2 separate regions of the Homo sapiens genome follow, and region 1 is linked to region 2. Evidence: fine-mapped expression QTL. A gene starts in region 2. The other region holds a variant in brackets. All regions are shown on one strand. Distances are from middle to middle. Region 1 has its middle 29 kb from the start of KLHL31. Region 2 holds the start of KLHL31 (kelch like family member 31).

Region 1 (4,400 bases), 29 kb after region 2:
AGCTATTGGATTTAATGCCTGTGACTTGAGGTTCTGCTAATACCAGCCCATGTGAAAACAGCATTCATTCAGTTCCTCAATCCTAATACCCAACAGTGATTCTGAATGACTCACTTTCTTCCCCCAACCCAACAATCTTTCAGCAAGTCCTGCCAGGTCTACCTCCAAAATATAACAAATTTGCCTATTTTCTCCAACTCCACTGCCCCAGACTCCCTGCTGCCATTCACACGCACTTAGCAGACACATAGAAAGTTCCATGTCATTTCTCTGTTACCTTCCTCCAGTGGTCCTATTGTCAGGGTCCGCATAGCCCTTCATGATCCGATCTCTGCCTCCTTTGCTCACCTCCTTTTGTGCCTTCTCCTGTCTTGTCTAATGCATTGCAGACATACTGGCCTGGTTTTTTTCCTCAAACATGACCTGTGGCCTTTGCATTTGGTGTTCCCTGTGCCTTGAATATTCCTTGTATGGCTTGCTGCTACTTCTCACCCAGGTCATGGCTCAAATATCATCTCTTTTGAGATGCCCTCCCTGGCCTCCTTAGTCCATGCTCAATCACTCTTCATTGGACTAGCATGCTTTACTCTCCACAGAGCACCTACCACAATCTGCCATTCTTCGTGTACTGTGTCCCTCTAATACAGTGACCTTATCTGTCTTATTCATCTCTGTATCCCCAGCACTTACTTTTTTCTCAATTAATAGTTGTTGAGTGAATAAAGTAGATGTTACCTTTTCTCTATTGTTTTCTTTTATTTGGATTGCAACCAAAAAAAGTCCGAGAGGGCCCCATGTGGCACTTGGTAGGAAATCGAGATCACCTGTTCCCATCCCTTTACTTTGGGATGGGGAAGCAGATGCTGGAGTTCCACGTGACTTGCTCGATGTCACTCAACCCACCAGGGAAGAGTCCAGAATAAAGCCAGGTGTCATGATTGAATCTGGCTCCCTCTTTACAAAAACTGTGGGCAGAGCCAGCTCTAAGACAGTCGGATTTTGTGGCTAAGTAAACAGTAAAAAGGAATGTATGATAAAAGGTGGAAGGAGAGGCAGAGGAAAAAGCATCTATAAGACCTCTTAAAACAACAGGGATGGGTGAAAAGATCGTGTAATAAATAAAGGAAACTATGTGTGTGGTTCTATGTCATGTACCCCACAACAGACAATGTATGTAGAGAGGGTGTGGTGGTTGCTGCGGGACAACAGAAATGGAAGGCACTGGACCAGCCTCGGGAGGGCACACCCTATCTGCAACATTCACATTCACTTCCTAAATGCTTTGCTGGACACATGCTAACATTTTTAAGGGGTTGGATTCAGCCCATAGAGCCCGTGAGAGAATCCTGACTTAAATCCTCAAATTTGGGGTTGATGCTTGGGTAACATATACCACATCTATGATGAATTTAAATTGTGGTCCAGTGCTGAGCAGGAGAGGCTTCTAAGTCGTCTTTTCTTTCTCTCAAAGTCTTGCCCAGGATATGGCAAATAAGGGACTTAAAGTGACTCAAGCAAAGATAAGAAGAGAAGGCTGGCAGGCTGGGCACGTGTAATCCCAGCACTTTGGGAGGCTGAGGTGGGAGGATCACTTGAGGTCAGGAATTTGAACCAGCCTGGCCAACATAATGAAATGCTGTTTCTACTAAAAATACAAAAATTAGCTGGGTGAGGTGGCGACCACTTGTAATCCCAGCTACTTGAAAGGCTGAGGCATGAGAATCACTTGAACCCATTAGATAGAGGTTGCAGTGAGCTGAGATCATGCCACTGCACTTCAGCATTGGTGACAGAGCAAGAGTCTATCTCAAAAAAAAAAAAAAAGAGAGACAGAGAGAGAAAAGCAATGTGGGCTCTCCACAAACACACCTGTGCACACATACCCCATTCTTTTTCTCCATATGCGCTCCAGGCTGTGACAGATGATGTCCGGGCCCTGAAGACTGTC[A/G]ATTACACTAGGAAGAAGTCATCGTTGGTCTCAGGTGGAATCCCAGAATTTATAATTATATTAGGAAGGAATTCCAGGATTAGGTTGGAGAGCAAGGTCAAGGGAAAAAGTCAGGGGCAAGGGTTCTCAGGCATTCATGTCAAGGACGGCTATAGTGAGAGGAATCAAAAGAGTAGAATGTCATTAAATAGAGGAATCAAAAGGGTAGAATGTCATTAAATAGAAAACCCTGCCTTACAAAGGATCTTTGGAAGGTGAGTACATTATTTATGTCTCAGGGTTCCGTCAATCAGTCTACTTTCAGTAAGTTTTAACTTATTCTCCTTATGTAACAAGCTCTGCGGAGTCTTCCAGATAAAAATAAAACAAAAGCAGCCAAACAAAAGACCTTTACAAGGGGCCCACTGAAGTAGAACTAGCTTTCTTTGTAGGTCAACCTGACCCCAGAGGAATTTTCTGAAAAATAGCAACACAGGATCCTTAGACCTGGCTTATTTTTGATGGAAAAATGTTTAGAGTACAATAGAATGTCCTTTAACTTATTGCCCTGGTTACCAATGATCACTGCTGTTAGTTAAATTTCAATTCGATTAATAGAAGATGAATGTCTTTAATAAACCGGGGCAGTACAAAGGAGAAAAGTTAAAGAGTAAAAGGTTGCTTTGTGGCAGGAGGAGCTGTTTGACATCCAAAGTTTCCTCTCCTGCCCTACTCCCTTAAATAATGCATACGCTAGCTTTCTGGTCTTTGTTCTTTACTTGTATCACCTATTTGACAAGGTAGATAAGATTGCAGGCTCAAAGACCAGTGAAGAGGCTGTGCACTTGGAAGAGTGGCCTGTTATGGGGTTCACATTAGAGCTCAAGAGGAAGGAAGAGGTACCCATGGGAGAGCAGCCTGACTCAGGGTGTTGAGGCCAAAGCAGGGTGAGGAGGGTGCCCATGCAGTGGCTGGCTCAGTGCAGGCCATCAGGGCACAGGTAGAGTGAGGAGGGCTCCCACTCACCAGCGGGGTCTAGCGTGGATGTGGCAGCGTGGGGGTGGCGTGAAGGGAGCATATGTGGTAAGAGAAAGTGGCAGCAGCAATAAGAACTTGGTGATAGGGAAGGATTGATTAGGTAAGTAAGCAGATCAGGAATAATGGGTGCCAGGTTTCTCATTGTCAGTGAAGGGGGATATAAATATGGAAAGGGAGAAAAACAGAATGAACCCTGTGGTGTTTGAATAGAGTTGGCATTATTGGTGTAAACTTATTTTGTGTGCATGTGCAGATAACGAGATAGAGCTCTGTGTTTACTGAGAGCCCCGTAGCAGTGGCACTCTTTTAGCAAGAAGGCTCTAAATTCTACTAAAAGGAATCACGGTTCCTTGGAGAAATGGCTGATTCCAGAGCCATTCTGGAATCCAGAGCTGTATTTCAGGAAAATATAGGTGTAAATAACCACTTTTATATATTCAGTTTTTTTTTTTTTGAGATCTCCCACCACGAGAATGCTCTTGTACCAGAACAGCCTGTGCTCTATGTGTTTTGCTCTGTACCTCCAGCTTAGCACACAGTACGTTCTCAGTACAAATATTTGTTAAGTGAATAAATGAATGAATGAATGATATGTTTACTTTCATGTTTTATATGCTTACTTTTAAAACACAGAAAGCTTCAGAAAACTTTTGCCTTAAGTCATTGTGAATTAATATCTCCATGCTTAATATTTTAGCAGAAATTTTATTTTCAGCCAATTTATTACTATGACCCAGACATTGAACCTGAATAAGTCTCTATTGAGTATGTTGAGGGAATAGGAGAGGTACACAAGGCAAGATGTTTTCCTTTCCTTATAAAAGCATTGGGAAATTCTCTAAAATTTAATTTTAGTGGTAAGTTAAAGAATAGCTTAATTTAATTTTTCTATTACTCAGTTATCAGTCTGGGTCAAGAGATTTCCATGGAATTTTTTACATGCTCAACTCTTGCATATTATTCAGAAATCTTTTGCTTTTCTTTGAAAGTCAACTGTCCATTGAATATGGAAGTGTACTCAGACAACAGACAAGTAGAGAAACTGAACCGAAGGAGCCAAACACAGAAACTCTCTTCTTCCTCCCTGCATTCCCTGTCTGGGTAATGGCACCAGCATCCGTCTGTCACCCAAGACAGAAAACTACTGGTTGTCATAGGATCCTCTCTCTTCACAGACCTCGTGCCTCCCACTAAATACATAATACACAATGAAGCCTGACATCTTATCATTCTTACCTCCTAAGTACCTCTTATCTCTGTCCAGGGCCAGCTTCATGGGCATCCAACCTGTGCACTTGGACAGGGCCTCTCTCTCAGCAAGGTTACATACTTGGGGTTTAATGCTCTGCAGTTATCTTGAAATTCTTAATAATGTTTACTTCACATTTCTGCTTTGTAAGTCAAGTTCAATGGGGCAATGGAGCATGTGCCAGGG
Region 2 (4,400 bases):
AAGTTTTTGTTTGGGTTTTGTTGAAAACTTTAGTAAACTGGCTCTTTTTCTTTCCTAGTATTTTGTGTGTTGGAGGGAGAGGAGGTTAGAAATTGAGTTTTAAGACTGATGCCTTTTTGATTATCATAGAACTGAAAATTGGGTTTCGGTGTTCATTCTGCTCTAACCACTTGATAGACCTATAGCAGAACGTCCAACCTATCAGGATTTCAGTATAATCAACTGTCAAACAAGGAGATGCATTACTTTTGCTTCTATAATTTTGCAGACAGTTATGAATACACAGCTGACTTTTGCTGTCAGAATTGTCAAAATCTGTTCCTACATTAAATCTCCCTGTAATATGGCCTTCCATATCTTTAGAATCTACTCATTATCAGATAGGGATGAACGAACTGAGACAAGGTTTCTTTACATGGGATCTATATGTCTGGGTCTGAACAGCTAGATTTAGCAAATAAAAATACAAGATGTCAAGTTGCATTTGCATTTCAGATAAACTATGAATCATACTTTAGTATAAGTATGTCCCAGGCAGTGTTGAGGACATACTTATGCTAAAAGTTGATTTGTAGCTTACCTGAAATTCAAATGTAGCTGGATGACCTGACTTGTATCTGGCATTCCTGATCAGGGCTGGGTATCAGGTGAGTCCATGAGTCCTGCGGAATAGTCTGAAACATACTGTGTGCATATGTTTATGTGTACTTTCCACACACTGGGCTCAGCGTTTTCATGAGATCCATAACCCGAAATAGATCCAAAATGACTGGACTGAGAATAATGCTGCCAAGCAATGGTACATAATTGGACCCTTGTCTGTAAGTGGGCAAGTCCATGTGAAAGTATTGCACTTAAATTCTTCCTGGCCCCAGCTGATCCCAGATGAAGACCCCCAGAACTGGTTATAGAAAAGAGTTGTTACTTCATATTTGAGAACATTTTCCTTCCCACTGCCCTGCACCCATGCTTCCTGGGAGTCCACAACAGGGTAAACTGGAAAGCCATGTGTGCTAAAGTGTCACTGTCACTCTCATGCCAGTATGAACTGGGATCCCAGAATGTCTTTTTGCCAAAGGGGCGAATCAGCTGCGCCTGCTCCCTGTCCTGGCCACATTCCTATCGCTGCATCTGTCGGGGCTCATCAGCCCTACCTCCAGGAATAGAAACCCTCCTGGCTTCTGTGGCTTGCCATTTTAAGTCCAACCTCGGGGTGGGGTGTAGGGGGGTGGTTTCCACTTCACCATTACACTTCCAACATGATTTTTAATATAAAATATATGTCAGCATAATGATATGTGCACATTTAAGACAAAAACCTATTTTTTAGCCAAATAACAAATTTTTTTTTTTTTTTAGGAAGGATATTTCCATTTCATCAATAGGTTATATTTCTGGGAATTCAGAGTTGTCTGAGTTTTGTGCTACAGATTTAGTTAAAACTGGTAACATTTCATCCAAACTGATCAGTAACAAATGTTAAAATGATTCTTGATAAAAATAAAGGTAGAATTCTAAACTTTGTGAACAAAGCCTAAGAATTTTCTCTCCTTCTCCTTCTCTATAAAGTAGTGAAAGAAAAATATATCTTAAGCTTTAGAGATTTAGAATTTTTGTTAGAAATTACAGGTGGTTTTACATTTGTAGGGCATCATTGTCATGCATTTTGTTACCGTGAAGTTCTCCTAACACGTTACATTTCTCAGATTTCAAAAAAATGTTTTCTGTCTCCCAACTTCAGATTAGGGACATGAACCACCTGACCCAGCTGTAGACTCCCTTCAGTAAAATAGCTCTACAACCACAAACACTCAGCCCACCCTCTCCCACCCACACATCCACACACACCCCAGGATCTAGAAGGCAGGAATTGGCGACTCTGGTCCCAGCTCCTTACCCTCCTTGGGTGAAGTGGCAGGTCAACTTGAGATGATGAAGTTTTAGCAGGAGACTCCTCTTGGGAAGGGATCTGTGGAGATAGAGAGAGGGAGAAGGAAAATCCGGTGGGGAGCCACCAGCAGCCACCTGACAAGACCCGGCTGCAGCAATTTTTAGAGTGACCCTTTGCCGTCCCACTGGATAAGGCAGGCCGAGCCTGCGCTTTGGCCCGGGAGCAGAGCAGCGAGCGCCCTCCTCTCCGTCTTTGGCCTTCAACTCTCCAGCCAGCCGGGGGCAGGGGGCGGGGCTCCGGTTGGTGGAGAGGGGTTGGGTTTCTTGAACTGACCAGCTGCTCAAAATGAAAAAGAAAAGAAAAGAAAAGAAAAGAAAGAAAGAAGGAAAGAAAGAAAGAAAGAAAGAAAGAAAGAAAGAAAGAAAGAAGGAAGGAAGGAAGGAAGGAAGGAAGGAAGGAAGGAAGGAAGGAAAGAAAGAAAGAGAAAGAAAGAAAGAAAGAAAGAAAGTCAAGAGCTCAATCAACCTGTGTGAGAGGAAAGAAAATTAATTCGATGGATGTTTAATTGTTGGAAGCAGGGATTCTAGTAGAGTAAGGAGAAGGGAAGGCTGTGGATTAAAAATTAGTTTTTGGAAAGGTAATTAGCCTGGTCACCTACGGTCTTTTGAGAAGATAGTGGTTATAAATAGCCTATTCTTTATAAGAGGAGCACGTATCTACCAGATATGGTACTTTCTACAGCACCTCACATGTGGTTCTAACATTATTAGGCTCATTTTAGAGTTTAATAAAGTGAGGTTTATGGCCAGCGATTTTCCAGTGATCACAGAGAGGTCTGAGATTAACACACACTCTAGCACACATGCAGGTTGGGAAATATCTACTTTGGCAACACTTCATGAGAAAAAAAATTCAATGATTATAATTGACTACAAATTTTAATGGGCACCAAGAGTGTGAAATGGTTGCTTAAAAAGTTAACATGATATTAAGCTACAATAATAGAAAAATAGATCATGGAAAATAAATGTTCTAATTATTCTTCATTAGTCAGATGATGTGTTAAGCATCACTTTGCTATCTTGGCACTCTGAGAACTTACTCTTCATCCTACAGAGATGGCTGGAACAAAAAAACTTCAGAGGCGGTGCATGTTGGAAACATCTGAAGAGAAGTATGACAAAGAGAGGACTTTTAAGATAAGTGAGACACCTGAGAGCAAGTGTTGTGGGGGCTGTTGTACAGCAAGAGGATTCAGTCAAAATTTCTGTAGCCTAAAATGTCAAAAATTTTAATGTGCAGTAATTCCGGGGAAATACCTTAAAATAAAGAAGAAGAGTGCAGATAACAGCTGGGCTCTAATGATGAAAATGGCAGCCTTGTAAAAGAGCCAGTTCTCTATAATTAGAAGGGTGGAAGTAAAAGAAGTTGCAGGACTGGTGTGACATTGAAGGGACTCTGTCTATGGCTGGGGGCTTGCACTGCATCATCTCTGAAATCTTTCCAACTCTAAGGCTCTGATTCTATATGTGCCAGTCTCCAGTTCACCTGAGACTCTCAATTCACTGGATAGCATCTGTCTATTGACTACTTCTGCTGGAATTCCCACCAATTTTTTAGTAGGAAAAACTATTTGGATTTTTTTTTTAATTCTTTGCTTCTACCCATAGATCTCCAGCACAGAAAGCGCCAGGAGCAAATCAAAGAAGCTTCTATTATGGTTTGCTTCTAAGAAATTCTACTTGGTCCCACCTCCTTGACTCAGGTAAAGGGTCAGAACCTTCCATCTTTGTTTGTTTGTTTGTTTGTTTTTTGTAGAGACAGGATCTCAGTATGTTGTCCAAGCTGGTCTCAAATTCCTGGTCTCAAGTGATCTTTCTGCCTTGGCCTTCAATCCCGTTTTAATTGTAATAAAAGTCAGCCTTATATCAGTATTTATGATAATGATGATATAATGATGGAAAGGGCCTTCAAGAAGATGTTGGTACCAATATTATCTTCTTCAAGGGTTCAAGACTATTAATTCCAGTTTTACTGGAACATCACTGAGATGCTCCTTTCAATATAATATAATGTTAAGATATGAACACAAGTGGAAGAATAAAAGGCAAAAAATGGAAAATCTAAGACACTTTAAAAATCATTTTCAGAGTAGCTAGTCTGTGTAACCATTCGACTACTGCTATGGTAGATACACTGGAAACACAGCATGGGACAGTAGGTTGTAGTGAATATTAAGAAATTTTGTCTTTGTCTTTAAAGCAATGAGTCTACCAATTGGAGCATATTTAATAAAAAAGAGGGTCATGATGAGATTGGCATTTTAGAATGAACATTCCGTAATTTGGGGATGTAACCTTAATGGAATTTAGATTTGTTTCTATTGCTAGTGCCTGTCTCTCTTCCACCAACCTCCTGATACTCTCTGCCATACAGCCAGTTCAAATGTAAGCTCCATGAAGGCAGGGATTTTTATCTGTCCTAACAGCAGACTTTCTCTCTTGGCTTT

Evidence for each region. PIP is the estimated chance that this variant, and not a neighbour inherited with it, causes the effect. A credible set is the group of variants that fine-mapping cannot tell apart.
Region 1: its variant is the best candidate, but not a certain one, in a credible set for the expression of KLHL31 in testis (GTEx, PIP 0.53).

Annotation. Positions count from the first base shown.
Region 1 is chr6:53,692,297-53,696,696 of GRCh38, forward strand. No RefSeq gene overlaps it. Among named protein-coding and RNA genes, the nearest start is that of KLHL31, 29 kb to the left of the region's middle. The variant A/G (reference allele first, on the strand shown) is at 1,949.
Region 2 is chr6:53,663,704-53,668,103 of GRCh38, forward strand. It overlaps KLHL31 (kelch like family member 31), which reads right to left and starts at 2,053. Exons shown (of 3, transcript NM_001003760.5): 1 at 1,898-2,053.